3 separate regions of the Homo sapiens genome follow, and regions 2 and 3 are each linked to region 1. Evidence: fine-mapped expression QTL. A gene starts in region 1. Each other region holds a variant in brackets. All regions are shown on one strand. Distances are between the middles of the regions. Region 1 holds the start of POU6F1 (POU class 6 homeobox 1). Region 2 overlaps GALNT6 (polypeptide N-acetylgalactosaminyltransferase 6). Region 3 holds the start of DAZAP2 (DAZ associated protein 2).

Region 1 (10,916 bases):
CGCACCAGGCTGATTTTTGTATTTTTAGTAGAGACGGGGTTTCACCATGTTGCCCAGGTTAGTCAGGAACTCCTGACCTCAGATGATTCACCCGCCTTGGCCTCCCAAAGTGCTGGGATTACAGGCGTGAGCCACCGCGCCCGGCCTCTAATGCAGTTTTATGTGGTGCTTGTTCCCAGGGAGGCCTGTATTTCAGACATGAAATTTTATGTAAAAGAATCTTGTCCTATGTAGGAAAATGGAACTTGTATGGGATTCAGACTTTTAAACTCAGATCCATTTCTGGTTTTATTATCATTTTTTTTCAGAGACAGGGTCTTTCCATGTTGCCTAAGCTGGTTTCCAACTCCTGGGCTCAAATTATCTTCCCACCTCAGCCTCCCAAAGTGCTGGTATTACTGGCATGAGCCACCATACCTGGCCCATTTCTATGGTTTATTTTATTTTATTTTATTTTTTTGAGACGAGGACTTGCTCTTGTTGCCCAGGCTGGAGTGCAGTGGCATGATCTCGGCTAACTGCAACCTCTGCCTCCCAGGTTCAAACGATTCTCCTGCCTCAACCTCCCGAGTAGCTGGGACTACAGGCGCCCACCACCTTGCTCAGCTAATTTTTGTATTTTTAGTAGAGACGGGGTTTCCCCATATTGGCCAGGCTGGTCTCGAACTCCTGACTTTGTGATCTGCCCACCTCGGCCTCCCAAAGTTCTGGGATTACAGGCGTGAGCCACCACATCCGGCCTAATTTCGTTATCTTTAAAATGGTGACTAGGCCAGGCGCAGTGGCTCACACCTGTAATTCCAGCACTTTGGGAGGCCAAGGCAGGAGGATCACCTGAGGTCAGGAGTTCAAGACCAGCCTGGCCAACATGGGGAAACCCCATCTCTACTAAAAATACAAAACTTAGCTGGGTGTGGTGGCGGGTGCCTGTAATCTCAGTTACTTGGGTAGCTAAGGCAGGAGAATCGCTTGAACCGGGAGGCGGAGGTTGCAGTGAGCCGAGATCATGCCATTGCACTCCTGTCTGGGAGACACAGTGAGACTCTATGTCAAAAAAATAAATAAATAAAAATAAATAAATAAATAAATAAATAAAATGGTGATTAAATAGGCAAGCCCTATGGGATTGTTATGATGGTGATATGAGATCATGTAAATGAAATGCTTAGCATGACTCTTACCACAATCATCTTCATTTTTATCTATATGTACATAGAGGTAGAGAGAGGTCAGGTGACTTGACCAAGGGCACAGGAGAGTCAGTGGCAGATTCAAACTTCAAGGCTCTGTCGACCTGCCCCGGACCCCATCCTCCTGACACCACACAGAACCTCCTCTCAGGAAATGGGGGTAAGGCTGATGGGGACTGCTCTGGTCCCCAAGGCTCAGGACACACTGGAAAACAGAGGATCTCAATTCTGCTCCACACCGACGCCTGTCCCCACACCCTGAACCATGAGCAGAGATAACAGTCTTGCCAAGCTGTTGGTAGGCTAACAGCTAGGCACACACAGGCCAGAGAAAGGAAAAAGAATGATGAGGTGACCAAATAAATAGGAGAGTAGAGTCAAGGGTAGTAGCTCACACCTGTAATCCCAGCACTTTGGGAGGCTGAGGCGGGTGGATCACTTGAGGTCAGGAGTTGGAGGGCAGCCTGGCCAACATGGTGCAACCCTATCTCTACCAAAACATAACAAACCCAAACAAACAAATAAAAAATTAGCTGGGTGTGGTGGCGCAGGCCTGTAGTCCCAGCTACTTGGGAGGCTGAGGCCAGAGAATCGCTTGAGCCCAAGAAGGTGAAGCTGCAGTGAGCCAAGATTGTGCCACTGCACCCCATCCTGGGTGACAGCAGAGTGAGAACCTGTCTCAAAAAAGAAAAAAAAAAGAAATGTGAAAAATGAAAAGTAGGTATGTTCCTAGTAGACTGTAAGCTCCAGGAAGGCAGGGATCATGTCTGCTTATCATCATATCCCTGGTGCCTAAGATAATATCTGGTATATAACTAGGTTCATGAATATGGGCTGAAAACAATTGAAGATACGAGGTCACGTCATAGCCACATCACTTAGCCTCTTATTATTTCCTACCTTTTCCCTCAAAACACACACCCTACTTCAAATGTTTTGCCTCCATTTCCAGTACTGGGGCTACTTAAAAATGATTTCAAAGACGTGGTACAGGCCGGGTGTGGTGGTTCACGTCTGTAATCCTAGCACTTTGGGAGGCCGAGGCGGGCGGATTACTTGAGGTCAGAAGTTCAAGACCAGCTTGGCCAACATGGTGAAACCCCGTCTCTACTGAAAATACAAAAATTAGCCAGGCATGGTGGTGTGCGCCTATAGTTCCAGCTAGTTGGGAGGCCGAGGTGGGAGAATTGCTTGAACCCGGGAGGTGGAGGTTGCAGTGAGACCAAGATCGCGCCACTGCACTCCAGACTGAGCGACAGAGTGAAACCCTGTCTCAAAAAAAAAAAAAAAAAAAAAAGAGAGATTTCCAAGGTGTAGTATTGGGTTCTGGAGAACCCAGACCACACTGGCCCCTTCCTAAAGCGCCCGTCTAATTTCTCATTCCAAGCCTTCCTCCTGTGGCCAGTTTCTCCTGCATCCCACTCTCTCTTCTGCCTCATGAACCCTCATTTTGACATGAGGGGTCAAAGGCAGGTTTAAAGGCAGAAGACCCAGCTTGAGTACTGCTTCTACTAGAGGTAATCCCTATAAGCCTCCGTTTCCTTATCCAAAATGGAACCAAATTATAGTAACCACCTCATGGGTTATTGTGAGGATTAAATTGATAATATTTATGGAAGGCACTTAAAACAGGGCCTAGCATGAAGCAAACACTATATATATGTTTGTTATTATCATTGCTATTATTTTGAACTGAAGTAAAGCATGCATATAAAAATGTTTTAAATTATAAAGCATTTTAAAAATGTAAAAGATGGCCAGGCACGGTGGCTCACGCCTGTAATCCCAGCACTTTGGGAGGCCAAGACGGTTGGATTGCCTGAGCTAAGGAGTTCGAGACCAGCCTGGGCAACACGGTGAAACCCCATCTCTACTAAGATACAAAAAAATCAGCTAGACTCTGTCTCAAAAAAAAGAAAATGTAAAAGATTACTCTGATAATTTTATGGTGAGTAAATCTTGGGGACAAGAATATGAGCTTATCCCAAGTTCCTTCAAAATGCAGAAAAACCTTACAGGAGCAAATTTTTTCTGAGTCACTTTTCTTAACTGCCAGCTAGTACTTCCAGGAACAAAACAGAATAAATGGCTACATACACACACACTGACACACAATCACTCTATGGTATTACCTTGTTAGTTTTAATGTTTAGCATCTACTTGTCCACCCCCAGAATAAAAACTCCATGATAGAAGTTTTGTCTGAATTGTTCAGAGCATGGCACTGAGTGGGTATTTTTGTTGAACTAATGAAGAAATGAAGTTCTACAGCAGATAAGCGGAGTACCAGGTCACAGAAGTATCACTTTGAGGACCAGGACTTGAATGAAAATGGAATATATGGAATTATTCCTCAGAAGGCCTCTGCCAGTCAATGGTGGCTGCCTTAGATTGCTAAATAAGGGGCATGGGACACATGTATATGAACAATTGAAGACCAGCCCTCTACTTTTGGAACAAGGAATTTGGGAAGGGCAGATGAGGTTAAAAATCTCTGCAAAGAGCCTCTTTTCTTTGGCCCAGGAATGCTTCCCGAACTCTTCTGATTTCCCCCTGCCCAGCCGCAGAGGCTATTCTGTGAAGGTTTTAGGCTTCCAGTCGGGCTGAGTGGGGTATTCTGCCGCGAAAGTGGAGGTTAGAGGGTATGCTGGGAGCTCCCTTGGCCTTGCCAGGTGAGCCTGCCCAGGGAGCCTGCATCGGGCCCATTATTATGACTATTTATTAATAATAATATCGATATTAAATATTTATGAAGTGCTCATGCTCTGCTAGAAGGTGGCCCTCCCATCACTGACCCACCCTTCCAGCAACGCCTGGGTCCCTACCCCCGGGTCCCACCGGTCGTCCCGGAGTTTGTTCATTCGGGAGAACCGTGACAGGTCACCCTGGCCGCCCCAGCTGGCCCTAACCGCCGGGAACCCAGGCGTCCGTGTTCTCCAGAGAGGCAAGGATCCGCTTCTGGTCGCCACTGGTTCTGTGTACAGAGCGTCCCCTGTGGTCCGCACCCCACAAGGGCTCCAGGGGCAGAAACGGGGAGGGGCCAGGTCGGGGTTCCCCACCGGGTCCACCTGGCGGCCGCCCCCTCCGCTCCAGGTCCAGAGCGGCCCGCGGGCGGGCGAGGGCGCGGCCCCCGGGTGTCTAGCCCCAGCTGGGCAACCGCGCGCTGTCCCGCTCCCGCAGCTCCCCGCCGCCCCGGCCCAGCATCCCGCCGCCCCGGCCCCGCGGCTTTTTTTCTCTTTATCATAAATATATAAATTATGCTAATTACGGGCATTGCATATTAACCAAACCCGAAACCTCCCCTGCCCGGCCCCCTCCCCCTCCGTGCAAACCCCTCCCCGCCCCGGACCCCGCTACTTACCGGAGCCCGAGCCCGAGCCGCCTTCGCCGCGGGTGTCTGGCGGCCACCGATTAGAGATTCATCTCACAGCCCGGGCCAGGGGGCCGGGGCCGGGGCCGGGGCCACGGCGGCCGCCGCCCGCAGACAAAGAAGCCAGTGCGGCTTGGCTGGGCTCGGCTCGGCCCGGGAGCTGGTCGGGACCCGCCGCCGCCCCCAGGCCCCCAGCCTGGGCTGGGCAGAGCCGAAGGGGGCTCCGCAGGCTAAGCCGGGCGGAGAGGGGACGGCCGGGAAGCGGGAAGGGGAAGCCGGGTGGGGGGGCGGTCAGGTATATATTTTTCTTCGTTCCCCCTTCCACGACCCCCCCCTTTTCCCTCCCCCCCTTTTTTCCCTCCTTCTGCTACTTGGATTTTTTTAGCTGCTGCGTCATGAGCATAATTTATGCAAAGAGCTTTGCCGCATGCTGCACCGCCCGCGCCAGCCGCCGGGGGCGGCGGGCTGGGAGGGCGGTCAGGGAAGGGAGGGGAGCACGGGAGCCAGGAGCGAGGGGTGGGGGTGGGGAGGGGACCCTCTGGCCCTGGCCGAGCGGGAGGTCCCGGAGGCTCTCTCCCGGGACAGGGATGGACGGTCAGTGGGTCTGGTTACTCAGCCCCTCCGAGGTGCCGCGGAGGTGGTTTCATTTCGGAAGGTGCCAGAGTAGGAGCTGGAGTCCGGACCCTCCATGCCACATGGCCTTCAGCTGAGGGTTGGGGCGGTGACTCCCGGCCACCGCCTTTCCTCTAGGTAGTCAACTGTCCTCAATGTTGAAAGTCAAGTTTATGTCTATCCCTCCCTCCCTAGAAAGGCGGGGGAACTCAGACATCGCTCAGCCAACGTGGAGAACCTCTGAACAGCTGTGCCCCAGCGCCAAAGCAGCGAAGGGTCCCAGGTCTCTCACCCGGTGGCGGCCGTGGGCTGTGTTGTCTAAAAGCAGATTTCCGGCCTTCTTGTCCAAGTAGACAAGGAAATGTGAACAGAAAGACAAAGTTCAGTGGAATGGTGAAAAACCTCTAGCAGCTTCTTAAGGTAGAGAGGGGACCAGAAAAGGGGTGGATGTGGGTGGCTGAGGGAAAGCAGATTGGAGAAGTGGTGGACAACTGAAAGAGGAAAAAGTTGGAAGACCAAAGTGGAAGCGTGGGAATGGAGAGAAGAACTGGGAAGGAAGGAGGCTCTGTAAATCCAGTGAATGTGGATCCCAATACTGAGGCCACCTGCTGTCATCCTAGGCTGTTCCCCCTCCCACCCTCTCCCGATATTTGGTGGTCTGAGGATAGCTAGAGGTAGATGGGTTAGAGGCAGTGTGAGAATGCAGTTGGAGGCCTCAGTCCTCCCCGGGACTGCTCCGTAAGGCCTCGTGGTGGAAGGGCATTGAATGGCCCGGCCTCGTCGTTAACCTGGCCAGTGGACTAGGCTGTTATCAGCTTGCTGTTTCCATCTGGAAGTGAGCAGGTACTGCTGGCGGCGGATTTATGAGTAACCAATGTATTAGGAGTCAGAATACTTAGGTTTTAGTCCCAACTCTTCCACTAGCCGTCCAGGCAAGTAATTTAACTTCTTCATTACTTATAAAACAAGGATAATATTTATAATGACATTTATAATGACTACTTCATAGGGTTAAGTTTGTGAGCCTGTATGTGAAAAAACTGAAAGCTGCAAGCTCTATACAACTGTAAGGTGTCATTCCTTGTACAATAGTTTGAACTCGTTTTAATGGCCCTGTGAAACTCTACTGCGTGGCTTGATATTACAGTTCTTGGGGTTTTTGTTTGGCCGGTAGTCCCTGTAGTTTCTCTCCCTGGACTGTGAATTCTTTGAGAGCACTGGTTGTGACTTACTCATGTTTGTATTTCCCACTACTCTTTATGTGAAGGAGGGGCTCAGTATTGCTGCTGAACTTTGTCACATGAAGGTTGAAACTTTTCATTTATGTCACTTGGTTTGGTGCTACACATAGATCAAAGGCTTTGGATAGCATGGATATCAGCGACAGTTTGAAGAAAGAAATATGGATGTGATCAGAGGAGTTCAGGGAGACATACATAAAAATGTTAATCACGGTTTTCTTTATGTTGTATACACTTCTGCATTGCTTAAATATTTGATGAGCATATATTACTTTTTGTTTCTGTGTTTATTGGGGCATAACATGTACACAGTATGTGTATACCTTGATAAATTTTTACATGTATATACATATGTACGTGTATGTATGTGTGTATACATATGTACGTGTATGTATGTGTGTATACATATGTACGTGTATGTATGTGTGTGTATACATATGTACGTGTATGTGTGTGTATACATATGTACGTGTATGTGTGTATACATATGTACGTGTATATGTGTGTATACATATGTACGTGTATATGTGTGTATACATATGTACGTGTATATGTGTGTGTACATATGTACGTGTATGTGTGTGTATACATATGTACGTGTGTGTGTATACATATATACACGTGTATAGATACGTGTATACATATATACATGTCTATATATACATGTATATACTCACACACATATATATATCCATGTAATCCCCACCCAAAACAAGATATAGAGCCTTTCCAAGACCTGAGGATTCCCTTATGTACCTTCACCGGCCATAAATTCCCAAAGTAACCATTATTCTGATTTCTGTCACCATAGATTGATTACTTGAGCTGATTCTTGAACTTCTCATAAATGGAATCAGACAATATGCAATCTTTTGTGTTTGGCTTCTGTCACTCAACAAAATTTTTTTTTTTGAGACGGAGTCTTGCTCTGTCGCCCAGGCTGGAGTGCAGTGGTGTGATCTCGGCTCACTGCAACCTCCGCCTCTCGGGTTCAAGTGGTTCTCCTGCCTCAGCCTCCCAAGTAGCTGGGACTGCAGGTGCGTGCCATCACGCCCAGCTAATTTTTTTTTTCTTTTTTTTTTCGAGATGGAGTCTCGCTCTGTCGCCCAGGCTGGAGTGCAATGGTGTGATCTCAGCTCACTGCAACCTCCACCTCCTAGGTTCGAGTGATTCTCCTGCCTCAGCCTCCTGAGTAGCTGGGATTACAAGCACACGCCACCATGCCCGGCTAATTTTTGTATTTTTAGTAGAGATGGGGTTTCACCATGTTGGTCAGGCTGGTCTTGAACTCCTGACCTCATGATCCGCCCACCTCAGCCTCCTAAAGTGCTGGGATTACAGGCATGAGCCACCACGCTCCCAGCTAATTTTTTATACTTTTGGTAGACACAGGGTTTCACCATGTTGGCCAGGCTGGTCTCGAACTCCTGACCTCAAGTCATCCGCCCTCCTCGGCCTCCCAAAGTGCTGGGATTACAGGTGTCGGCCACCACACCCGGCCTCAATATATGTTTTTGAGATTCATCCATGTTGTTGAATGTAGAAGTATTTTTTATTGCTGTGTAGTATTCCATTGCATAATTATACTACAATTTATCCATTCCATTATTGATGGGCATTTGCTTGTTGTTTGGGCCTCTTAGGAATAAAACTGCTATGAGCATTCTTGTACAAGTATTTTGGTGAACATATGCACTTATTTCTTCCAGGTAAATACTGAGGAGTAGAATAGCTATTCTATTTTATTTAGCTTTTGTCCATACTGCTAAATAGTTTTCTATAGTGTTTGAACCAATTTATATCTTTATCAGCAATGCATGAGAGAGTTCTAATTGTTTTACATCCTCACCAGTATGTGGTATTGGTAGTCTTCTTGCAATGAAAGTTTATTACTTTTTGGCTGGGCGCTGTGGCTCATGCCTATAATCCCAGCACTTTGGGAGGCTGAGGCGGGTGGATCGCCTGAGGTCAGGAGTTCGAGAGCAGCCTGGCCAACATGGTGAAACCCCGTCTCTACTAAAAATATAAAAACTAGCCGGGCGTGGTGGTGGGCTCCTGTAATCCCAGCTACTCGGGAGGCTGAGGCAGGAGAATTGCTTGAACCCAGGAGACGGAGGTTACAGTGAGCCGACACGGTGCCACTGCACTCCAGCCTCAGTGACAGAGTGAGACTCCGTCTCAAAAACAAAAAACAAAGTATATTACTTAAAAAATTTTTTTTTCTTTTTTTGCCTGGGCATGCCAAAGACCGCACCTGGCTTTTGTTGTTGTTGTTGTTGAGACAGAGTCTCACTCTTTAGCCCAGGATGGAGTGCAGTGGCACGATCTCCACTCACTGCAACCTCTGCCTCCTGGGTTCAAGCGATTCTCCTGCCTCAGCCTCCCAAGTAGCTGGGATTGCAGGCATGTGCCACCGTGCCCAGCTAATTTTTGTATTTTTAGTAGAGACAGGGTTTCACCATGTTGGCCAGGCTGATGTCAAACTTCTGACATCAGGTGATCCGCCTGCCTCCACCTCCCAAATTGCTAGGATTACAGGTGTGAGCCGCCACGCCTGGCCTAATATTTTATTATTTTTATTTTAAAATTTTACTTTTTTTTGAGACAGAGTCTTGCTCTGTCACCCAGGCTGGAGTGCAGTGATGAGACCTTGGCTCACTGCAACCTCCACTTCCCGGGTTCAAGCTATTCTCCTGTCTCAGCCTCTCGAGTAGCTAGGATTACGGGCATGCACCACGATGCCCGGCTAATTTTTGTATTTTTAGTAGAGATGAGTCTTCACCATGTTGGCCAGGCTGGTTTTGAACTCCTGACCTCAGGTGATCCACCTGCTTCGGCCTCCCAAAGTGCTGGGATTACAGGCGTGAGCCACTGCACCCGACCTATAGTATTTTGTTATAACAGCCCAAACGGACTAAGACCCATCGATACTGATCCACTTTCAGGTTCTTAAACTTCGAGCTCTTTCCTGCCTTCATTGTGTCTGCCTATGCTGTTTCTTCTGCCTCCTCCTTAGCCCATCTTTCAGGCCTTGCCTTATATATGGCTTCCTTCCTCAGAGACATTTTCCCTGCACTTCAGTGTTATTTTGTCTCGTATCACCTTCCCGTTTTCTTAATCACCATGTGTGCTGATGTATTTGTATGTTTATTTTCTATTTAATATGTTTACCGAGTAGGCAGTAAATTCCAAGGCAACAGTCCATTTTGTTTTTGACTGGACATTTGGCACCAAGCCCAGTTATCTGGCACACAGTAGATAATAATTACTTATTGAATAAATGAAGGCTCGGAAAGTTGGGGAAATGTGAGTGAAGGAGAAAACGAAAACGTGCTGGGCTGAGAATCCTGTTGAAGAGTTTTATTTGGCCGGACACGGTGGCTCACGGGTGTAATCCCAGCACTTTGGGAGGCCGAGTCAGGTGGATCCCGAGGTCAGGAGTTTGAGACCAGCACGGCCAACATAGTGAAACCCCGTCTTTACTTTTTTGTTTGTTTGTTGAGACGGAGTCTCGCTCTGTCACCCAGGCTGGAGTGCAGTGGCGTGATCTCGGCTCACTGCAAGCTCTGCCTTCCAGATTCATGCCATTCTCCTGCCTCAGCCTCCCGGGCAGCTGGGACTACAGGTGCCCACCACCACGCCTGGCTAATTTTTTTGTATTTTTCTTTTTTTTTTTTTTTTTTTTTTTAGCAGAGATGGGGTTTCACTGTGTTAGCCAGGATGGTCTTGATCTCCTGACCTCGTGATCCTCCCACCTTGGCCTCCCAAAGTGCTGGGATTACAGGCATGAGCCACCGCGCCCAGCCCCGTCTTTACTAAAAATACAAAAATTAGCCTGGTGTGGTGGCATGTGCCTGTAGTCCTAGCTACTCGGGAGGCTGAGGCAAGAGAATCGCTTGAACCTGGAGTTGCAGTGAGCTGAGACCGTGCCATTGCACTCCAGCCTGTGTGACAGAGTGAGACTCCGTCTCAAAAAAAAAAAATTATATACTGGATGGCTTATAAACAACATAAATTTATTTCTCACAGTTCTAGAAGCTGGAAAGTTCAATATCAAGATGCTGGCTGATTTGATTTCTTCTGAGGGCCTGCTTCCTAGTTCATAGACAGCCATCTTCACATGGCAGAAGCAGGCTAGGAAGCTCTCTGGGGTTCCTTTTATAAGGGCTCTGATCCCATTCATGAAAGCTCTACCCTCATGACCTAATCACCTCCCAAAGGGCCCACATAATACCATCACATTGGGGGCCAGAATTTCAATATATGAATTTTGAGGGGGACACAAACATTTGGTCTCTTGTAGGCTAGGACACCGCAAGAGGTGGGGGAGAATTGTACAAAATGAGGTTGGAAAGGGAGGCAGACACCAAATCAGGTAGGCTTGGCCATATATACCTCTAATCTTTCTAATTGGGACCCTTCTAGCTTTGCAAACTCAAGATTTACCTCCTCCAAGAAGGCTTCCTGTATAATACATACCACATTGTTCTAATTATTATTATT
Region 2 (10,916 bases), 160 kb after region 1:
TCTCTCCTTTATAAATGAGAATGGACTAATACACTCCAGTACAAGAGATTCAGGTGAAAGAGCTTCCGAAGGATGGGTAGCATAGGGTTAGGAGGAGAAAGATAACGAAAGAACCCAGTTTGAGAGGAAGGACCGCTAATATGCTTGCTTCCATTCCATACAACCTTTCCATTGCTACAAAGATTCCCTAGAGATCACTGCCAAGCTCCTCCCATCTCTGCCAAACTCTTCACCCTTCCCTTTCCAGAAGCCTAATCTATACATTCCTTGTCCACCAGACCCTGTCATTGCATCCCTGATACTTGCTTGCCTTGATTTATTTATTATTTTTTTTTAGAGACTGGGTCTCACTCTATTGCCTAGGCTGGAGTACAATGGTGCAGTCAAGGCTCACTGCAGTCTCAGCCTGCTGGGCTCAAGCAATCCTTCCACCTCAGCCCTCCAAGTAGCTGGAACCACAGGCACATGCCACCGTGCCCAGCTAACTTTTCTATTTTTTATAGAGATGGGGTCTTGTGACATTGCCCAGGCTGGTCTTGAACTCCTGGCCTCAAGCAATCCTCCTGCCACAGCCTCCCAAAGTTCTGGGATTACAGGCATGAGCTACTGTGCTTGGCCTATTTTACTTTATTTGTATCTTTTTTAGAGACAAGGTCTCACTCTGCCATCCATGCTGGAGTGCAATGGTGCAATCACAGCTCACTGCAGCCTCAATTTCCTGGGCTCAAGTGATCCTCCCACCTCAGCCTCCCAAGTAGCTGGGACCACAGGCAAATACCACCATGCCTGCTAATTTTTTATTTTTGTAGAGATGGGATTTTGATATGTTGCCCAGGCTGGTCTGGCCTTGCTTTATAAGTGCTGCCAAGTATCTGTCTTCCCTGGGAAGATGTGAGCTTCCTGAAGAAATGAACTCAACAGGGCTCACACTCAGCCCTTCCTTCCACAGCCCTAGTCCTCTTTTCAGCATCACCCCTAACCTAGAGGAAGGAGGGAGGCTGGGGGAGGACAAGGACAGGAAGCAGCTCTACTGGAGTGGCCCCAGCGCTTACACTGGGAAGTGTGGAGTCAGTTCCTGCCCTCACTATTGGGAGTTTGAGCACAGGAGGTCAATCTGGGAGAGCCCCAGACACCACATGCCTCCTACGAGGAGGGCTAAGCTTGTGGAGACTCTCAGCCTAAAGGTGTCTCAGTCCCACAGCCTTTCCTAGTTCAGGCCCCATCATCTCCTACTCTCAAGTGAGTGTAAGAACTTCCTCTCCAGACTGTGAGTCCTCTGCCTCTCTTCCTGCCGATTATCCTCCTCCAAAGCTGCCATCCTTCTGAAATGAAGTCACAGTACAGATGAAACACTTTCAACGACTCCTTCTTACTTTCTAAATAAATGCTTTTAGCATGACATGAATGTCAATTCAACATTTTTTTTTTTGAGACAGGGTCATGCTCTGGCTCAGCCTCCCGAGTAGCTGGGACTACAGGCACATGCCGTCATGCCAGGCTAATTTTTGTAATTTTTATAGAAAAAAGGTCTTGACATGTTGCCCAGGCTGTCTTGAACTCCTGGGCTCAAGTGATCCACCCGCCTCGGCCTCCCTAAGTGCTGGGATTACAGGGGTGAGCCACTGTCCCTGGCCAATTTAACATCTTTTAAGTCTCATTTCCTAAACAAACCTAAGCTTCAGCCACACCAGATCTCTTTAACAAACACATTCATGTCTTTAGGACTGTGCTTATGCCATTCTCTTGTGGGAATGCCCTTCATCCACTCTTCTCTCTTAGACACTCATCCTTTAAGGCCCAGCTCCAATCTGGCTTCCACTGCAGACCAGCCCTAGCCACGCCAGGCAGAAATGGCACCTCCTGGCTACATACTCCATGGTGCATTGTTCTCGTACCATGAATAAAATGGAATGCATGCTTGTGACACTCTTACTTGATGCCAGCCACTCTGTGGCACATGAATCTCATTTATGACCTATCTCATATCCCTCACCCACCATGTAAGGGACTCAACTGCTCTTTTTTTTTTTTTTTGAGATGGAGTCTCACTCTGTAGCCCAGGCTGGAGTGCAGTAACATGATCTCGGCTCACTGCAACCTCCGCCTCCTGGGTTCAAGCGATTCTCCTGCCTCAGCCTCCCGAGTAGTTGGGACTACAGGCATGCTCTGCCACGCCTGGCTAATTTTTGTATTTTTAGTAGATACGGGGTTTCACCATATTGGCCGGGCTGTCTCGAACTCCTGACCTTAAGCAATCTGCCTGCCTCGGCCTCCCAGAGTGCTAGGATTACAGGCGTGAGCCACCACGCCCAGTCCTTTTTTTTGTTTTGTTTTTTTGAGAAGGAGTCTCACTCTGTCTCTCAGGCAGAAAAGCAGTGGTGCCATCTTGGCTCACTGCAGCCTACGCCTCCCGGGTTCAGGTGATTCTTGTGCCTCAGCCTCCCGAGCAGCTGGGACTACAAGCGCGCACCACCACACCTGGCTAATTATTTTTTGTATTTTGGGTAGAGATGGGGTTTCACCATGTTGGCCAGGCTGGTCTCAAACTCCTGACCTCAAGTGATCTGTCCGCTTCAGCCTCCCAAAGTGCTGAAATTACAGGCTTGAGCCACTGTGCCCGGTCTGCCCCCATTTTTTGAAGAGGAAACAGGTTCAGGGAGGCCAAATGCTTGTCCAAGGTCACAGAGCTAGGAAGGGTCAGAGCTGGGATTTGAATTCCTAGGTGTTGGACTCTGCAGTCCATGCCCTTTCACACCTGTTACAGGTGCATCACTGCCACAGCACTGTGGCTAGTGTTGTAAGAGGCTTCTGGCCGGGCACGGTGGCTCATGCCTGTAATCCCAGCACTTTGGGAGGCTGGAGCAGGCAGATTACCTGAGTTCGGGAGTTCGAGACCAACCTGACCAACATGGAGAAACCCCATCTCTATTAAAAATACAAAATTAGCTGGGTGTGGTGGCACATGCCTGTAATCCCAGCTACTAGGGAGGCTGAGGCAGGAGAATCGCTTGAACCTGGGAGGCGGAGGTTGTGGTGAGCTGAGATCACACCATTGTACTCCAGCCTGGGCAACAAGAGCGAAACTCCATCTCAAAAAAAAAAAAAAAAAAAAGGCTTCTGACCTATGGGGGTTTTTAGTATTTTCAGGGCAGGGTCTGTCTCCTTTGTCATGGCATCCCCTCTGCCTGGGTCAGAGCCAGGCACACAGTACTCAGTAGATGTTTGTGGAATTGAAGGCTGGAAGTTTGGTGAGCAACCCCACTTACCTATCAACAGCTATGGCAAAAAGGGCTGGTTGGGGAGTCTTCAAGAGCAGAAGAGTGGCCCAGCGGGTAGGAAACAGAGGTGAAGGCCTGTCCCTACCCTCTGCCCTGTCTCTCCCAGCATTTCTGAGTTAGGGTTGGCCTTGGCAGCGTTCAGGGAGTCTTGAAGCCAGAGCTGAAAAGCTCTTGGAGCTCTTTGGCTGAGGTGTGAAGGAAGCATGGTCTACCTGCCCCTACCTGACTTCTTCCTGCTCCTGGCCTTTAAGATGAGCTGTGATGTCAGGCAACAGGCTCATGAGGTGGTGCCTGCTCCCTTGAAAGGAACTGCCCTCCTCCTTTGAGTGCCCAGGGGAGACCCCGGCCCCCTCCTCTGGGCCCCTCCAGCCTCACCCTCTGTGCTGGCATCATCCACCAGTATGATCTCCTTGAGCAAGATGGCAGGGGTGGTGTGTAGGACGCTGTACACTGTTCGCAGCAGTGTGGACCAGGCTTCGTTGTGGAACACAATGATCACGCTGGTGGTGGCCAGTGGGGGGCAGCGCCGGAACTTCTGGTCCACACACCTGGAAGTATGAAAGTACGGACAAAGTTCTCCTGGTCCCTGGGAGTACCAGGTGTGGGGAGGGCCCCATCCAGAGACTCCCCCAGACCATCCTCCACTCCTCTGAACCACAGCCTACATTCTCTATAGCAGGTGGGAACAGCTGTTCCCTGTTCCTGTCTTCCCCGGTATCTGCCACCCACCCTGAGCCTTTGCACAGGTTCTAGCCAAACCACTCCAAAATCCATCCCCACAGAGCTGGCTCAGTGCCCCAGCTGTGATGCTGAGGCTCCTCCACCCCCTTCCTTCATCTGCTATCTGCTCTCAGGCTAGGAGTTCCCAGGGCTGGCTCTCTTCCTCCGTAATATGTGAACTGCATAAAATGTAATCCAATCCAGAGGTCCCAGAGGGGTAGGTAATAAAGGCCAAATTTGACATCTGAGAAAAGTGACTATGATTTCCATACTCAATGAGAAGAAAAGGCTCTTCCCTTTACAGCGTACAGTTCCTCTCTAATCCATTTTCTCATTAACTCCCTGTGATTTGACACCACTATCACAGTCAATTTCCTGCAACCTTTCTTCCAACTTCATCCACTCCAGCTACTCTGTGGCACTTGGCCATGCTGCTACCTTCTTGACACTCTATCTCAGGGTTGGGGTGGGAATGTGTGAATCCTGGATCTCAAGGAATCATGTGACCTCACACCCTTTCCTTGACCTCCTCTGCTGGTCAGAGGATTTCTTGGGGACCCTCCAGAGAGATTCCCTGTCTTCCTCCTCTGGCTGCTGTCACACCCAGTGCTCTTCTCTCTGTCTGTTTTTTTTGAGACAGAGTCTTGCTCTGTCACTCAGGCTGGAGTGCAGTGGTATGATCTTAGCTCCCTGCAACCTCCACCTCCCAGGTTCAAGCGATTCTTGTCCTTCAGCCTTCTGAGTAGCTGGGATTACAGGCACCCACTACCATGCCGGGCTAATTTTTTTGTATTTTTAGTAGAGACAGGCTTTCACCATGTTGGCCAGGCTGGTCTTGAACTCCTGGCCTCAAGAGATCCACCCACCTCAGCCTTCCATAGTGCTGGGATTATAGGCATGAGCCACTGTGCCTGGCCCCAGTGCCCTTCTCTGCTGAGGAATTCCTGATAGCTTCAAGTGGCCCCTTGTTCTAGGGCTATCATACTTGGCTCAAGTCTCAAGAACCTCAGGTTCACAGCCCTAAAGACTCACGAAATCTGGGGATGAGGGCTGCCATTTGAGAAAAGGCCAAATAGGGTATAACACTTGACCTGGAAAAGACAAAGGCTAAGTGGGGAAGACACACTGTCTTTAACTTGAGGATCATGGGAATGCAGCCATGGGGGCGTTAGAGGGAGGGGGCTGCCACTCAAAGATCTAAGTGAGATCTCATTGTGCAAGATTGAGGCTATAAACAACTTCAGATAAAGGTTGGAATCAATTCCGGCCTTGTGGGCCTTCACTGGAGGAAACCAGGTGTGAGGATATTCCTAACCACCAGGGTTGCTGTTAAGAAATGCCCACCCCCCCCCCAAACAGCTCAGCATTAGAGTCCCACAGTCTCTGGAGCAGGCCTCAGTAGAGGAGAAAGCTACTGAAACCACAGCTTGGTATCAGGTCTCCCCAGTCACCCCGTGCCAGGTCCTGGTGCCAGGCTGAGTTCCTTCTTCCACATCATCTCACTTTCATAATTGCATTTCACTCTCACAGGTCTCCCTGGGCCTCTGGCCTGACCATAATACCCTTGAATCACAACCCCTGGGATCAGCACAGTTGTTCTGGGAAAGAAGTGAGGCATAGAGGAGATCCTTGCCCATATTATAAAATTCCCTTCAACTCTTTCTCTGGCCCTTGATCTATGGCCCTGGCCATACTAGCCATGCCTTTAGCAAAGCCCTGGTCTCCCCACAAGGACTCTGGGTGCTACTTACTCAGGTGGTCGGGTGTCTGGCCCCAGGGACCTCTGCAGGGAGATCCGGTCGCTGGCAAAGGCATTGAAACAGTGCTTCTTATAGCCTTCTTCCTTTTCCTGGGTCTCCAGGGGGGTCCACTTGCTCTTCTGAAATGCTTTTCCATCTGCCCCAGGGGCATTGGGGTCCTGTGGTGGCCGTTCCCAGAAGGGCTTCAGTTCAGCTGGGGTATAGAACCCAGGGAGGCAGGACTGGTTTATGGAGAACAGAGTCTGCTGGGCTTCTGGAGCCCTGATTTGGAGCTTGGGCATTGAATCTCTAAGGTTGTTCATGGCCTCCAGCATGAGGTCCAGGACGTGATCCTTCCGGCTCACCAGGGACTTCAGCCACGGCTTCTCTGTGGCCTCCTCTCTGCTGCTCACATCCCTATGCAGGAGGAAGAGGAAGAGCACAAAGGCGCAGCCCACCATGGCCAGGCGCAGGGGCATGTGGCGTCTGCGGAG[G/A]AGCCTCATCCTCCAGAACCAAGGGGCACCCCAGCTGCGTCAGCTCTGAGTCCTGAGCCCAACCCTGGAGATAGCTTGATACGTTGTGGTGGCCACAAGCTGGGGCCTCAGCCTGAGAAAGGAGGGGACAAGAGAGAGAAGTGAGCCAACACAGGGTAAGGAGGGAGTCGGGTGCTTGGGGTTCGAGGCCAGGCTCTGTTGCTGAGTGGTGGCATCACCTTATTGGCCACAACTTTCCCATATCTACATTTCCTTCATCCATAAAATGAGGAGACCGGAGGCAGTGTTTCTTTCCTGCCCTAAGATCCTAATATGCATGGATCTAGAGTCACTGGAACACTGAAACACTACATGAGATTTAATCATTAAACTCATGAGATTTAATCATTATGGCTTTGGGAAACAACTTGGTATTATCAAGAAAAATTTGAAATGAACACAGCCTGAGCCAGCAATTCCACTCCTCATTTTATATCCCAGACAAACTCTGGTAGATGCAAACCAAGAGGTATGTACAAGAACATTTAAGCCAACACTGACTTAAATGGCAACAAACTGGTAAAACCTTTAAGTCCACTAGCAGAATGAATAAATAAAGTGCAAAATACCCATACCGTGCAGTGCTCTACAGTGATGACCAAGAATGAACCACTTCTCCATGCAACAATGTGGATGTGTTGTTGGGTGAAAAAAGCAAGTGACAAAAGGATACATACAGTATGATTCCACTTATAGAAAATGTAAAAACATGCTAAAATTAAACAATATCTTGTTCTTGAATACAAATATGTGATAAAGCTATAAAGAAAGCTAAAGAAGACTAGCCTGGCCAACATGGTGAAACCCTGTCTCTACTAAAAATACAAAAATTAGCTGGGCGTGGTAGCGCATGCCTGTAATCCCAGCTACTTGGGAGGCTGAGGCAGGAGAGTCACTTGAACCCGGGAGGCAGAGGTTGCAGTAGGCTAGGATCATGCCACTGCACTCCAGCCTGGGCAACAGAGCAAGACTCCGTCTCCCCACGAAAAAAAGAAAGCTAAAGAAATGACATAACCAGTTTCTGAAGATGAAGAAAACGGTACAGGATTAGAGATGGTTAATGGGGGACTTCAAAGTGTTTTTTTCTCAAAGTGGATGGCGGCTGCTGGTGGACTGTAATTCTTTAGACCCTATACGTATTTTATAAATATTTCTTGGCCAAGCATGGTGTAATCCCAGCACTTTGGGAGGCTGAGGTGGGAGGATCGCTTGGGCCCAGGAGTTCAAGACCAGTCTGCTCAACGTATTGAGAGCCCATCTCAATAAAAAATTTTAAAAATTAGCGAGGCGTAGTGGTGCACACCTGTAGTCCTAGCTGCCTGGGAGGCTGAAGCAGGAGGACTGCTGGAGCCCAGGAGGTTAAGGCTGCAGTGAGCTATAATCGCACCATTGCTCTTCAGCATGGGCGAGAGAGAGATTCTGTCTTTAAAAATAAATAAATAAAAGTTATCTGTAATCTACTCCTATTTAATAAAAAAGAATTTAACAGAAACCTAAGATTTCATGACAAGACATTCCCGGCAGGGCTGGGCATGGGCGTTCACCAGGCTCCACCCCCAGGCATGTGGATCCATGCCCTAGAGGATGAATGCTTGCAGAACTTTCTGTGCAGAGTTCTGGACACATAAGCTCACTGGTTAAGCACTAGACATCAATGGCAAGGGACCTGGGCACAAATTCCAGTTCTTCCTCTTCTAGTAGTAGCACCTACCTCCTAGGGTTGTTACAAGGATTATGCTCCTTCCCCACAAAATTCATGGACAAAGCTTAGCAGTCTCTGCACATGGTAAGTTCCCACAAAGTGTTAGTTTTGATCATTAGCAGCTGTGTGACCCTTGGGTAATTTACTTAATCCCTCTAAGCCTCAATTTCCTCATCTATAAAGTGGGGGCAACTAATACCTAACTCACAGGGTTGTGGGGAGGATTAAATCAGATAATGTAGGTAAAATGTTTGGCAGAGCACCTGTCACACTAAGCCCTCAATAAATGGTATCAACTATTTCTATTATTATGATAAATCCCTGCTTCACTTCCCAGCAGTTATCCTCAAGCACCTGGCCCTTGGCCAAAGCCACGTTCATTACTCCCTGCATGTTTTGCTTAAAAATAACTCTGGTTGTACTATTTAATGCTATTGTTTAAACGCACAAGCTCCTGCCTGTGGAGAGGCCTGGTGTCTGAGACCTTGGGAGTATGTGGCCATCGTGATCTCAAGTGGGGAGGTGGATTCATTCTGGACTGGGGTACAAATGTGGCTTCTTTTATAACATCAGATTCAGCAGCACCGTCAAAAATCAAACAAAAGAAATCTCTTTGAGCATCTATTTTGTATTAACTATTGTCTAGGAGATAGGAGAGATTTGTTTATTCCACCAGTATTTACTGAATAACTGCCTCTACCAGGTACTCTGCAAGAGGCGGGGGACACAGAGAAGTGCAAGGCCAGCCCTCAAGGATCCTACAGTCAATTGGGGGCATCAGATTTTAAACAGAGATTACCCTGTGAGAAGCAGAATCAAAGAGGTACCCTTGAGTGCTGAAGGAGCCGGCATGCAGGAAACTCAGCAAATGGGGGAGGGCAACATCTGTGAAGAAATCTCACGGGGGCAGAAATGGGCCGAACACTAACTGGCGAGTAGGAGTCAGCGAGGCGAGGTGAGCACATTTCAGGCAGAAGGCACAGTACCTGCAATGGTCTAGAGGTGGGAGACAGAAGAGCCAGTCACAGAACTGTAAGCAGTCTGGTATGGCAGGAGTAGCAGAAATTGGGCCTACAGAGGTGGCTGAAACCAAGTCCTAAGGGCCTTGTTCATCATGCTGAGGAGCATTTGCCCTTGACCCAAGGCATGGGGAGTAATAAAGCGTTAAGCTGGGAGCCCAGCATTACAGGAAGAGCAATATGACAGCGGTGGAGGGTATCTTGGAAAGGGACCTGCTTGGCAGCTGGATGACCCATTCGGAGTCTGACCCAGGAGAGTTAGTAGCAGTGTGGATGGAAGAGGGAGGGTATGGTGCCTAGGAAGACCCCCTTGGGTGATGGGGTGGGACAGTTTACCCCGTCTGGTACACAGAGGGACACAAAGGCTCAATTCCTTTCCCCAAGGGATTTGAAAATCTTATTGGAGAACGAGAACTGATAGCACTGACCAGGTGAAGGAAGCACCTGACCAGGGGAGATTCAGGAGCAGGAAAAGGACCTTTCACTGAATACTCTTTTGTACTTTGAACCCTGACTATATTACTTATTCAAAAATGAATAAAATTAAAGCAGAATAGCACAGACAGTAAGAGCTAAGCTGAGAGAGGTAGAGTTCCCTGTGGGTTTGAGGAAGGCTTCGGGGAGGAAATGGGGATTCAGTGTAGCAGGAGTTTCTTGTCACAGAGGTTGAGCTATGCTGGGGCTAGCACAGGGGGATTTGCTTGAGCTAGACACCTCATCAGTTCTGGAACTGTCCCGGCTAAGCCCACACAGAGGCCTGCAGAATGGGGGAGTGTTTGCCATGACAGCTTTGAACCGTCCTGCAGGCTTCGTCTTCCCTGCTACTTTCCATCTACCTTCCCACTCCAGCAAGAAAGAGGGAGCACAGTTAGAAACAAAGGCATGGTAAGATTGTAGTTACTAACTGTTGCCAGTGCTCAAGACTCACCCCCTCCAGGAAGGCCTCCTGACTGATTCACTCAGAATCACCTAGGTTACTCCAACTCTTTCATCCTGGCACTGCCTCGTGGTCCCTCACAGCAGGGCCTGTTTTTGCTTCTTTTATTTTCCCTGGAGAAAGAAATATAGGGTTAAATTGAGCTCTTCCTAGGCATCTAATCTCTCAATCCCATCTGGCTGCCTGAAGCTTTCTCTCTCAAACCTACAGTTCCTCAAGGTACTAACCACATCCTGAACCGAAATGAGACACCTGGGATTAGCCTTGGTGGTGAGGCACTCATTCTCTAGTTTGTTTGCTTAGCATGAGGGCAACAGGAAGAGTCCCTTAGAAGAGACACAGAATCTAGTGCAAGCCACAGGACTTTGGGGTTAAGGATTTCTGCTCCCTGTGTAGGAGATGATTCCCAGAAGTATGGTTAGCAAGGTCGTGGAGGTCGCCCCTCCACCAGCCTTGGAGAAAGAATAGCTGCTATTCTTTGCTATTGTTTCAAGTACAAAGCTTCACGAGATCCGCCCCTGGTGTCTTGTATATCTCCCTCACCTTTGGGCTCCCACACCTGGCCTCCTGCTTTCCTGGCAAGTGTGCCCGCAGCCCCCATCCACTCATTTCCCTCTCGCTGTGGCTCAGCACTTCTTCCCAAGTCTTTTTCCTCCAGCTACCCTTGGGCCTGCAACTCTTTGGACCATCCTTGGCTTTGATCCCGAGATGATGCCAGAAATCCTCTCTGAAAAGCCTGCCTAGATTGAACAAATGGGATTTGCTTCCCTGGCCCCACCGGCCAGAACACAAACTTACCTTCTCTCACTGGTGTAAGGAACTGAGGCTTTACCCAGCCCAGCTTGTATCAAACTGCTGATTACAATCCACTGTGATATTATAAAATAAATTCAGAGTGTTGCAAATTAGCATTCAAAAATTTCTTTAAAAGACCAGTTAGGACCAGGCACAGTGGCTCACACCTGAAATCCCAGCACTTTGGGAGGCC
Region 3 (10,916 bases), 19 kb after region 1:
GTGGCTCACATCTGTAATCCCAGCACTTTGGGAGGCTGAGGCAGGCAGATCACCTGAGGTCAGGAGTTCCAGAGCAGCCTGGTCAACATGGTGAAGCCCCACCTCTACTAAAAATACAAAAATTAGCCAGGCATGGTGTCGGGCACCTGTAATCCCAGCTACTCAGGAGGCTGAGGCAGGCAGAAGAATCGCTTGAATCCGGGAGGTGGAGGTTGCATTGAGCCGAGATTGCGCCACTGTACTCCAGCCTGGGCAACAAAGCGAGACTCTATCTCAAAAAAAAAAAAAAAGGCACACCCATGAAACCATCACCACAATCAAGGCAATGAGTATATATTCATCAGTCCCAGAACTTTCCTACATTCCATTTACAACCTCCTTCCTTCCCCTTCTGCTTCCCTTCACAGCAACCATTGATCTGCTTTTTATCACTATAGTTTGTATTCCTAGAATTGTATATAAATGGAATCCAACGGGCACAGTGACACATGCCTGTAGTTCCAGCTACTTGAGAGGCTGAGGTGGGAGGATTCCTTCAGCCCAGTTCAAGGCTGCAATGAACTATGACCACGCCTATGCACTCCAGCCTGGGCAATATAACAAGACCCTATATCTAAAAAAAAAAAAAAAATTCTATAGTATGTATTCTTATTTTAAAAATCTGCTTCCTTTACTGAGCATAGATTATCCATGTTGTTTTGTGGATCCATACTTTATTCCTTTCTACTGTATGGCATTAAATTTGTTTATCCATTTACCTGTTGGTAGACACTTTCATTGCTTCTGATTTTTGGATATGACAAATAAAGCTGTTATAAATATCCATGTATAAGTCCTTGTGTACCCATGTGTTTTCTTTTCTCTTGGGTAAATACCTAGGAGTGGAATGGCTAGATCATGTGGTGTATGGATGTTTAACTTCTAAAGACCCTGCCAAACTGTTTTCCAAAGTGGTTGCACCATTTTGTTCTTTCTTATTATGACCAGCAGTTTGCCCTGACAGAGGTTGCACCATTTAAGATTTTAACCAGAGTGTGTGAGAATTCCACTTCCTCCACATCCTCTCCAACACTTGATGTGGTCAGTCTTCTTTTACTTATTTTTATTTTTTAAAATTTAAACAGAGATGGGGTCTCACCATGTTGCCCAGGCTAGTCTTGAACTCCTGAGCTCAAGTGATCCTCCCAAAGTGCTGGGATTACAGGTGTGAGCCACTGCACCCTGTCCAGTCTTAATATTAGCCATTGTAATAGGGAAGCCAACATTGTTTTAATTTTTTGACTAGGTAAGCATTCACATGGTTCAATGTTTTTGTTTGTTTGTTTTGGAGCATCATCCAGGCTGTAGTGCAGTGGCTTGATCTCGGCTCATTGCAACCTCCATCTTCCAGATTCAAGCGATTCTTCTGCCTCAGGCTCCCAAGTAGCTGGGATTACAGGCGTGTGCCACCACACCTGGCTAATTTTTGTATTTTTAGTAGAGACGAGGTTTCGCCATTTTGGCTAGGCTGGTCTCGAACTCCTGACCTCAGGTGATCTGCCTGCCTTGGCCTCCCAAAGTGCTGGGATTACAGGCGTGAGCCACTGCGCCCAGCCTCATTTTTTTTTTTTTTGAGACAGGATCTTGCTATGTCATTCAGGCGGGAGCCCAGTGGTGCCATTATCTTCACTGCAGCCTCGAACTCTTGGACTCAAGTGATCCTCCCACCTCAGCCTTCCAAGTAGTTGGGACTATAGGTATGTGCCACCACACCAGGCTAATTGATTTACTTTTGTGTGTGTGGAGATGGGGTGTCATTATGTTGCCCAGGCTGGTCTCGAACTCCTGGCCTCAAGTGATCCTCCTGCCTTGGCCTCTCAAAGTGCTCGGATTATAGGTTCAAATATTTTTAAACGTCTAAAAAGTATATAGTAAAAAGTCACTTCCACCTTTGTCTCACATCCTCCACTCCCTCTCCCCCTTATGTAACCACTTTTATAGGTATTTTGTGTATCCTTCCAGAATTTCTTTACTCAAATTCTGATGAATATTCTTGGTTTCCCTGCTCTTTGACATAAAAAGTATCATATTGGCCAGGTGCGGTGGCTCACGCCTGTAATCCCAGCACTTTGGGAGGGCGAGGCGGGTGGATCTCTCGAGGCCAGGAGTTCGAGACCAGCCTGGCCAACATGGCAAAACCCCGCCTGTACTGGAAATACAAAAACTAGCCAGGCATGGTGGTGCACACCTGTAATCCCAGCTACTTGGGAGGCTCAGGCACAAGAATTACTTGAACCTGGGAGGCAGAGGTTGCAGTGAACCGAGATCACGCCACTGCATTCCAGCCTGCGTGACAAGAGTGCAACTCTGTCTCAAAATAAAATAAAAAATAAAATAAATAAAATGTATCACACTAAGTATATGGTTTTGAATCTTTCCCTTTTTTATTTAAAGAACACCTTGGAGTACTTTCTCATTCTCTGTTGCAGCCACATAGTATTTTATTGTATGGATGTATCAAGATTTATTTTTTCTGTTTCCTATTGATAGAAATATGGGTTATTTCTAATCTTTTGCTGTTACAGAAAAGCTGCAATGAATAGCCTTATACATACGTTTCTCGTGAGTGCAAATATATCTGTAGAATCACTCCCATTAGTGGGAATGGTATGTTTGCAAGTTTGATGGATATTGCCAAATTAACCTTATAGGATTTGTACCAATTTTCACCCCCATCACCAACAAATTAGAATGCCTGCTTATCCACAGCCCTGCAAATAATGTTAGCAAATGTTTGGATTTTCGCCAATCTGATAATGATATCGGTGGGGTTTAATCTGCCTTCTGATTACGACCCAGGCTGAACATCATTTCATGTGTTAGGGAGTCATTTGTTTTTCCTTTTCTGTGAACTGTCTGTCTGTAAATGTCATTTGCCATTTTTTTCTAATGGTTGATCATATTCTTACTGATGTCTAAGAGTTCTTTACATGCAGGAAGATTAGCTCTTTGTGATGTAAATTACAAATATATTTTTCCAATTTGTCATTTGACTATATGGAGTTTTGACTTTGTAGAAATTTTGTCCTGACATTAGTCCTGGAACTAGTCCAGTTGTTTCTGCTTCCTGGATATTTCTGGAATCCCCCCATTTCTCTCTACTGTACTGCCTCTTCCCTAGGCCAGTCTGCCATCATCACACCTAAATGACTAAATTTGATTCTAAATGGTATCTCAGACATACGTCCACTCTTGCCCTTTCTTTAACCTATTCTATATTCTTTAGCAACCAGAGGGATTTTTCCTTTTCTTTTCTTTATTTTTTTGAGATAGCCTCTATCACCGAGGCTGGCAGAGTACAGTGGTGTGACCACGACTCACTGCAGCCTCGACCTCCCGGGCTCAAGCAGTCCTCCTATCTCAACCCCTCGAGTAGCTGGGATCACAGGTGCGTGCCTCTATGCCTGGATACTTTTTTAGAAATTTCTTGCCGAGATGGGGTTTCACCACGTTGCACAGGCTGGTCTTGAACTCTTGGGCTCAAAGAATCCTCCTGCCTTGGACTCCCAAATTGTTGGGAATGCAGGCATGAGCCACTGTGCCTGGCCCAGAAGCATTTTTCTAAAAGAAAAACACAAGCCAGGAGCAGTGGATCACGCCTGTAATCCCAAGTTTGGGAGGCCGAGGCAGGAGGATTGCTTGAGGCCAGGAGTTCTAGACTACTCTAGGCAACAAAGTGAGACTCTGTCTCTATAAAAAATTTAAAATTAGCCAGGCATGGTGGCAAGCACCCACTGTCCCAGCTACTCGGGAGGCTGAGGTGAGAGGATGAACTGAGACCAGGAGTTCAACGTTGCCGTGAGCTGTGACTGCACCACTGCACTCCAGCTTGGGTGACAGAGCAAGACCCTGTCCCAATCAATCAATCAATCAAACAAAAACAAGATCATATCACTTTCCTGCTTAACATTCTTCAGTGGCTAACTAGTGCCCTTAACATAGAATCCAGTATCTTCATGTGGGATCTTACATGGGCTCTAAGGCGTCCCTGCAAGGTCTGGCTCACAGTTCTTCAGCGTCAATTTTTTTTTTTTTTTTTTTGAGACAGAATCTTGCTCTGTCACCCAGGCTGGAGTGCAATGGCACGATCGCGGCTCACTGCAACCTCCGCCTCCCAGGTTCATGCAATTCTCCTGCCTCAGCCTCCCAAGTAGCTGGGATTACAGGCACGCACCACCATGCCCAGCTAATTTTTGTGTTTTTAGTAGAGACGAGGTTTCCCCATGTTGGCCAGGCTGGTCTCGAACTCCTGACCTCAAGTCATTTGCCCGCCTTGGCCTCCCAAAGTGCTGGGATTACAGGCATGAGCCACCGCACCCGGATCTTCAGGGTCATCTTTTATCAGTCCCCTTACCAGTATGCTCTGGCTACACTGAACTCTTTCATGCCCTCCCCCTCTATAAGCCTTCTCACCTCTAGGCCTTTGCATAAGCAGTTCCCTCTTCCAGGAACCCTCTTCACTTGCTTAACCTGCTCTCACCCTTCAGATTTCATCTCAGACATCACTTGCATCAGGAAACCTTCCCTGACTACATCAGAATAGAGTAGGTGCCTCACCTATGTGTTCTCCTCACACTCCATGCTGTCTTTATGTCAGCACTAATCATATTATGTGTTCACTTTTCTGTCTCTCCCATTAGGTAGACCATAAATTCCATGAGAGTATGGACTATGCCTGTCTCTTCATTATTATTTCCCTAGTGCCTGTCACAGGGCCTGGCACATAATAGGTGCTCAAAAAATATTTGTTAAATTAATGTAAGAAAGAATGTTTGATAAATGACCAAATAAACATCTTCATCTCATTGGGGAATCTACGAGAATGAAGAAAATGCCAAAGTTTGATCCTGTTCAAGAAAGTAGCTAATTACTACTACTTTTTTTTGTAGAGATGAAGTCTCACTATGCTGCCTAGGCTGGTTCTGAACTCCTGGCTCAAGCGATCCTCCTGCCTAGGCTGCCCAAAGTGTTGGGATTACAGGTGTGAGCTGTTGCACCCAGCCACCATTTACTTCTTAATTCCACCTGCCAGAGAAAGCACTGGCCTGCAACTCTTTCATTTTTGTTAGTAATCTCATTTGGCTCTGCCCTGGTTTTCCCAATGCCCAGGTCCCACTGTGACAAGCAAAATACCCAACAACCTGTAAAGTAGGCCTGACCAATCTGAGGGCAGTTTACATGAGCAGGAGGTAGGCCCAGGAGAGTTCCTGGGTCCTAAGAGTTAACCCTTTAATCATTGGACAATGGAGGTGGCAAGATCGCTTGAGGCTGGAAATTCAAGACCAGCCTGGCCAACACAGGGAGACCCCATCTCTGTATTAAAAAATGAATAGCACGTGCCTGTAATCCCAGCTAGTCGGGAGGCTGAGGCAGGAGAATCGCTTAGAACCCTGGAGGCGGAGGTTGCAGTGAGCTGAGATTGCGCCACTGCACTCCAGCCTGGCGACAGACCAAGCCTCTGTCTCAAAAATAAATAAATAAATAAATAAATAAATAAATAAATAAATAAATAAATAAAAATAAGGCTCGGCGCAGTGGCTTATGCCTGTAATCCCAGAACCTTGGGAGGCCGAGGCAGGTGGATCACCTGAGGTCAGGAGTTCGAGACCAGCCTGGCCAACATGGTGAAACCCCGTCTCTACTAAAAAATACAAAATTTGCCGGTCGTGGTGGCGGGCACCTGTAATCCCAGCTATTCGGGAGGCTGAGGCAGGAGAATTGCTTGAACCCAGGAGGCGGAGGTTGCAGTGAACCGAGATCATGCCACTGCACTCCAGCCTGGGCGACAGAGCAAGACTCCATCTCAAAAAAAAAAAAAAAAAAAAAAAGAAAAGAAAAAATTAAAACTTTTTTTAGAAAGAAAGAAAACCAGCCTGGCCAACATAGTGAAACCCCGTCTCTACTAAAAATACAAAAATTAGCCAGGAATGGTGGCGCACGCCTGTAGGCCCAGCTACTCAGGAAGCTGAGGCAGGAGAATTGCCTGAACCCGGGAGGTGGAGGCTGTGGTGAGATCGCCCCACTGCACTCTAGCCTGGGCAAGCGAGCAAGACTCCGTCTCAAAAAAAAAAGAAAAAGAAAAGAAAACACTTAATCGCTGCCCTAAAGGATGCCATCTTTGCCCTTAAGGATAATTAGGTTAGAAAGAGAAGCCATACATAGAGAAAAATAGAGGTACCATACAGGTCACCTGCAACAGGTGCTAAAAAAAGGAAAGGGCCACAAACACTCCATGGGTAGTGCAGTTATGTCAGTTTCAGTGCCAGGTGTTGCGTACAGCACGGAAAACATAACCCCTTCCTGTACGTGAGAAAGGCAACGACTGTCCTGGGGAAGACAGGGCAGCGAAGATTCCAGTGCAGGTCTCATTCAGGAAAGGATACATGTGAGCTGGAGTGGCAAAATAAATTTTAACAGAGCTGAAGCTTAAGTTGGGCTTGGTGGGGAGGGACGCATGATAAACTAAGGTGTGGGGAGCCGATTTCAGGCAGTGCGACAAATTTGCAGAAATCTAAGCCCCTCGTGGAAGGTTGCCAAGGTGAGGTGACCTTGAGTGAATGCGTGTAGGTGGAAAAAGGTTCCGGGGAATGCTTGCATCGTTCTGCATCCGAGCGTCCAACAGAGAAAAGATCCTGTTTCCAGACAATACCTGCATTTGGTTTTTCTCCAGCTGAGGGACACCGGTAGGGGGGGGGAGGACAGAAACGAGCAGGGGGTGGGGCCAAGGCGAGTGGGCGGGACCGCGCGGACCCTCCCGCGGCCGACTGGAGGCCCGGAGCAGGGGCGGAGTTTCCGGCGGCAGCGCCACTCGGGCGTCGGGTGACGCTAGGCGGACGGACCATCATGTGACACGGAAGTAGCTCCGAACAGGAAGAGGACGAAAAAAATAACCGTCCGCGACGCCGAGACAAACCGGACCCGCAACCACCATGAACAGCAAAGGCAAGGACCGAGGGTGGCAGAGGCCGTCGGGGGGAGTACTGCTGGCCCAGAGCGAGCGGATTCGGAGCCCAGGGTCACCAAACGCCAGGTTTGGGGTGGGCTGCGCCATGCTCCTTGGCCGGCTGCAGTCCAGGGCGCTGCGCCTGACGCCTTCGTCATACCCAAATTACGGCAGCTTGCTGCCTCCAGGCCCTTTC[C/T]TCCGTAAACTCTGTGGCGCAGTTTGGAGCTGCGGGCTCGGGTGGTGGGGGGGCTTGACATGATGGGCATCCGCAGGAGCAAATAGAGCGCTAGCGCAGGCATTCGCGTAGGCCAATGGAGAGCCGGCGGAGGCGGGGCGCCGCGCTCCGGAACCCCCAGCGGGGCCGAACTTAACTACTGAATTGCTGGAGTTGGTTCGTGGGCCGGGGCCTGTGAGGTCTCTTTTCCTTCCCTTCGCACCCCCTCGCCCTTCGCTGACGGGATCAGAACTTCTCCCCTTTTCTGTGGTTGTACCAGTGTGTCTGTCGGAACATGATTCCCATAACGCAGGAATAGGTTGAGGGGGTAAAAAAGGAATAGAAAAAAAAAAAAAAAAAAGGCCGAGCGAGGTTGCTCACGCCTGTAATCCCAGCAGTTTGGGAGGTCGAGGCGGGCGGATCACCTGAGGTCAAGAGTTCGAGACCAGCCTGGCCAACGTGGTGAAACCCCGTCTCTATTAAAAAATACAAAAATCAGCTGGGCGTGGTGGCGGGCGCCTGTAATCCCAGCTACTCGGGAGGCTGGGGTAGGAGAATTGCTTGAACCCAGGAGACGGAGGTTGCAGTGAGCCGAGATCGCGCCACTGCACTCCAGCCTGGGCAAAAGAGCGAGACTCCGTCTCAGAACAAACAAAAAACCAAACCTGATCCCCCGCTTTTCCAGTGAGGATATTCCTCCTCACCCCTCAGCCCTGCACCCTTTTCCCAGTCTCACGGTTCACTTCCATCATTCACACCCTTTGTTTGGAAGTCGACCTTGAATAGTAATCTGTAAGGAAAATCAGAACTGCTGTTACCCACGAAGTCTGGGCTGGTTGTAGACAGGCTGTGGAGACTACCTAGAGCAGAGGCACCCTTGATAAGCCAGAACAGCAGCAGGCCAGAACCCCAGACCTGTCCTGCATTCCGGAGGGAACTTGGGCCCAGGTAGACTTAACCCCTTACTTCGGTATGTTAGTAGGAGCAGTGAGCAGTGCCTTTCTTGTCTCGTTAGAATCCAGCACCTTCCATTTTAAGGGTGCAAAGACAATGCATATTTTCTTAGTTCCAGGAATCAGGCCCTCTGGGGCAGACTATTTGCAAATCCCCTTCTGCTTGCTCCCACTAAGTTAGCTACCCGATATGACCTGCCTCATTTTGGTAGCTCTGTGTAGTAGGCAACCTTCATTTTTTTCTTGTCTTTCAGGTCAATATCCAACACAGCCAACCTACCCTGTGCAGCCTCCTGGGAATCCAGTATACCCTCAGACCTTGCATCTTCCTCAGGCTCCACCCTATACCGATGCTCCACCTGCCTACTCAGAGGTGCTTCCAGTTTGCCAGATTTGAACTAGCTGGGAATACTCTTAGGGTGGTCCTTTAGTCCTTAGCTAAATCTGACTTCACATATTTACTCTTCACAAATGCTAACATGAATAATCTAAAACACTATATAATTTGGCAATTTTTGTCGGAGTTGAAAGTGCATTATTTGATGATTTTGTGTTATTTGGCACAGGCTAAGGTGCAGAAGATGAATTTGCGTTCTGTGAGCCCAACATTAGCTATAGCAGAAAGTGATCCAGGAGAATATTGAAGGCCAGTGGAAAGGCAACTTGTATAATCTTACAAAAAGTATAACCTGCATAAGGAGAATTAAGAATTAGCTCATTAAAGAGATCTCAAATAGGAATGTCATAAAGTAACATTTTGCCTTCTCTTCTGCCTCTTCTAGCTCTATCGTCCGAGCTTTGTGCACCCAGGGGCTGCCACAGTCCCCACCATGTCAGCCGCATTTCCTGGAGCCTCTCTGTATCTTCCCATGGCCCAGTCTGTGGCTGTTGGGCCTTTAGGTTCCACAATCCCCATGGCTTATTATCCAGTCGGTCCCATCTATCCACCTGGCTCCACAGTGCTGGTGGAAGGAGGGTATGATGCAGGTGCCAGATTTGGAGCTGGGGCTACTGCTGGCAACATTCCTGTGAGTATGACCTCATCAGAAGAAACTCAGCCCTTGTGTATTTTAACTTTCTGAAATGACTTCATATTCATTCTCTTACCATTTCTGGATGATAGTTGCCAGTGTTGGTACAACTACTGACATCCAATACTCAGGCAGAAAGTGTTTGAGGGGGCAGAACTGTGGCAAGTGAGTAGCATCTCACTGGGGGCTGAGTTAACCAGATTCTTTTGTTTTCATGTCTGTCGAGTCCTGCTTGCTGCTTTTCCAGTTCATTGTGGTACACTGAACTGGTCTAGTAATGCTCCTTATTCATTCCATAAGCATTTACCATTTACTTAATATTTGCCATCAGCATGGTGTTGCACTAGGAACCCTGATAATTAAAAAAGTAGAATGTATAATCCCTAGTAAGTAGCTTTTAGAAAGATATTAACAATTTTAGTTATCATTTTTTCCTACTTAATTCCCCAGTGCGTGGGATTTAGAGCTCAAATGACTGCTCAGTAACTACATGCTAGAGATGAAGTGAATGTGTCATTAGCGAGCCTTCAGTTTTCCAGTAGTTCATTCAAAAACTGTGTAAGGGCGAAGCACGGTGGCTCACCTGAGGTCAGGAGTTTGAGACCAGGCTGGCCAACATGGTGAAACCCCGACTCTACTATAAATACAAAAATTAGCCGGGCATGGTGGCAGGCGTCTGTAATCCCAGCTACTTGGGAGGCTAAGACAGGAGAATCACTTGAACCTGGGAGGTGGAGGTTGCAGTGAGCTGAGATCCCACCACTGCACTCCAGCCTGGGCGACAAGAGCAAGACTCTATCTCAAAAAAATTAAAAAAAAAAAAAATTAAAAATTAAAAACTATGTAGGGACCATGTGGGATTCATACATGGACTGGCACCCTGTCCCTGTTTTGGGAATGTGAGTAGGACAGTGGTTCTCTACCCTCAAAATGACTGTTGGTCTGGTCTGTTCATGTTCAGAAGGTAGCCATAGGCTTCATCTTAGAGCTGGAACCCTTTGAATGAGTGGTAGGCTCCCTTTCCTGTTTGTATCTTTGGGTTCACATAAAGTATAGACCTACTTTAGAACTCAAATTGGTGGCGGAACTAGCTCCTTAAAACGCAGCTGGTTAGCACATTGCCTCATCCTAACAGGCCTCTGCTTCCCCTATGTCCCCTTCGCTTATATTAGCTGCCCTGTGCCCATTCTATCATGTCATTTCCTTTCAGCCTCCACCTCCTGGATGCCCTCCCAATGCTGCTCAGCTTGCAGTCATGCAGGGAGCCAACGTCCTCGTAACTCAGCGGAAGGGGAACTTCTTCATGGGTGGTTCAGATGGTGGCTACACCATCTGGTGAGGAACCAAGGCCACCTCTGTGCCGGGAAAGACATCACATACCTTCAGCACTTCTCACAATGTAACTGCTTTAGTCATATTAACCTGAAGTTGCAGTTTAGACACATGTTGTTGGGGTGTCTTTCTGGTGCCCAAACTTTCAGGCACTTTTCAAATTTAATAAGGAACCATGTAATGGTAGCAGTACCTCCCTAAAGCATTTTGAGGTAGGGGAGGTATCCATTCATAAAATGAATGTGGGTGAAGCCGCCCTAAGGATTTTCCTTTAATTTCTCTGGAGTAATACTGTACCATACTGGTCTTTGCTTTTAGTAATAAAACATCAAATTAGGTTTGGAGGGAACTTTGATCTTCCTAAGAATTAAAGTTGCCAAATTATTCTGATTGGTCTTTAATCT

The links.
Region 2: its variant is fine-mapped to the expression of POU6F1 in whole blood (TOPMed, PIP 0.99).
Region 3: its variant is fine-mapped to the expression of POU6F1 in whole blood (TOPMed, PIP 0.99).

Annotation. Positions count from the first base shown.
Region 1 is chr12:51,213,091-51,224,006 of GRCh38, forward strand. It overlaps POU6F1 (POU class 6 homeobox 1), which reads right to left and starts at 4,972. Exons shown (of 11, transcript NM_001330422.2): 1 at 4,552-4,972. RefSeq lists silencers at 4,146-4,405, 4,636-4,795, 4,996-5,145, 7,253-7,432 and an enhancer at 5,296-5,355.
Region 2 is chr12:51,373,542-51,384,457 of GRCh38, forward strand. GALNT6 (polypeptide N-acetylgalactosaminyltransferase 6) reads right to left here. Exons shown (of 12, transcript NM_007210.4): 3 at 5,750-6,343; 4 at 3,654-3,826. The coding sequence starts at 6,240. Among named protein-coding and RNA genes, the nearest start is that of GALNT6, 12 kb to the right of the region's middle. RefSeq lists enhancers at 5,712-6,213, 6,214-6,713. The variant G/A (reference allele first, on the strand shown) is at 6,232.
Region 3 is chr12:51,231,940-51,242,855 of GRCh38, forward strand. DAZAP2 (DAZ associated protein 2) reads left to right here and starts at 6,887. Exons shown (of 4, transcript NM_014764.4): 1 at 6,887-6,981; 2 at 8,404-8,522; 3 at 8,932-9,177; 4 at 10,391-10,916. The coding sequence starts at 6,969. The coding sequence ends at 10,519. RefSeq lists enhancers at 5,937-6,574, 6,666-6,960, 6,884-7,133, 7,850-8,486 and a silencer at 6,684-6,793. The variant C/T (reference allele first, on the strand shown) is at 7,179.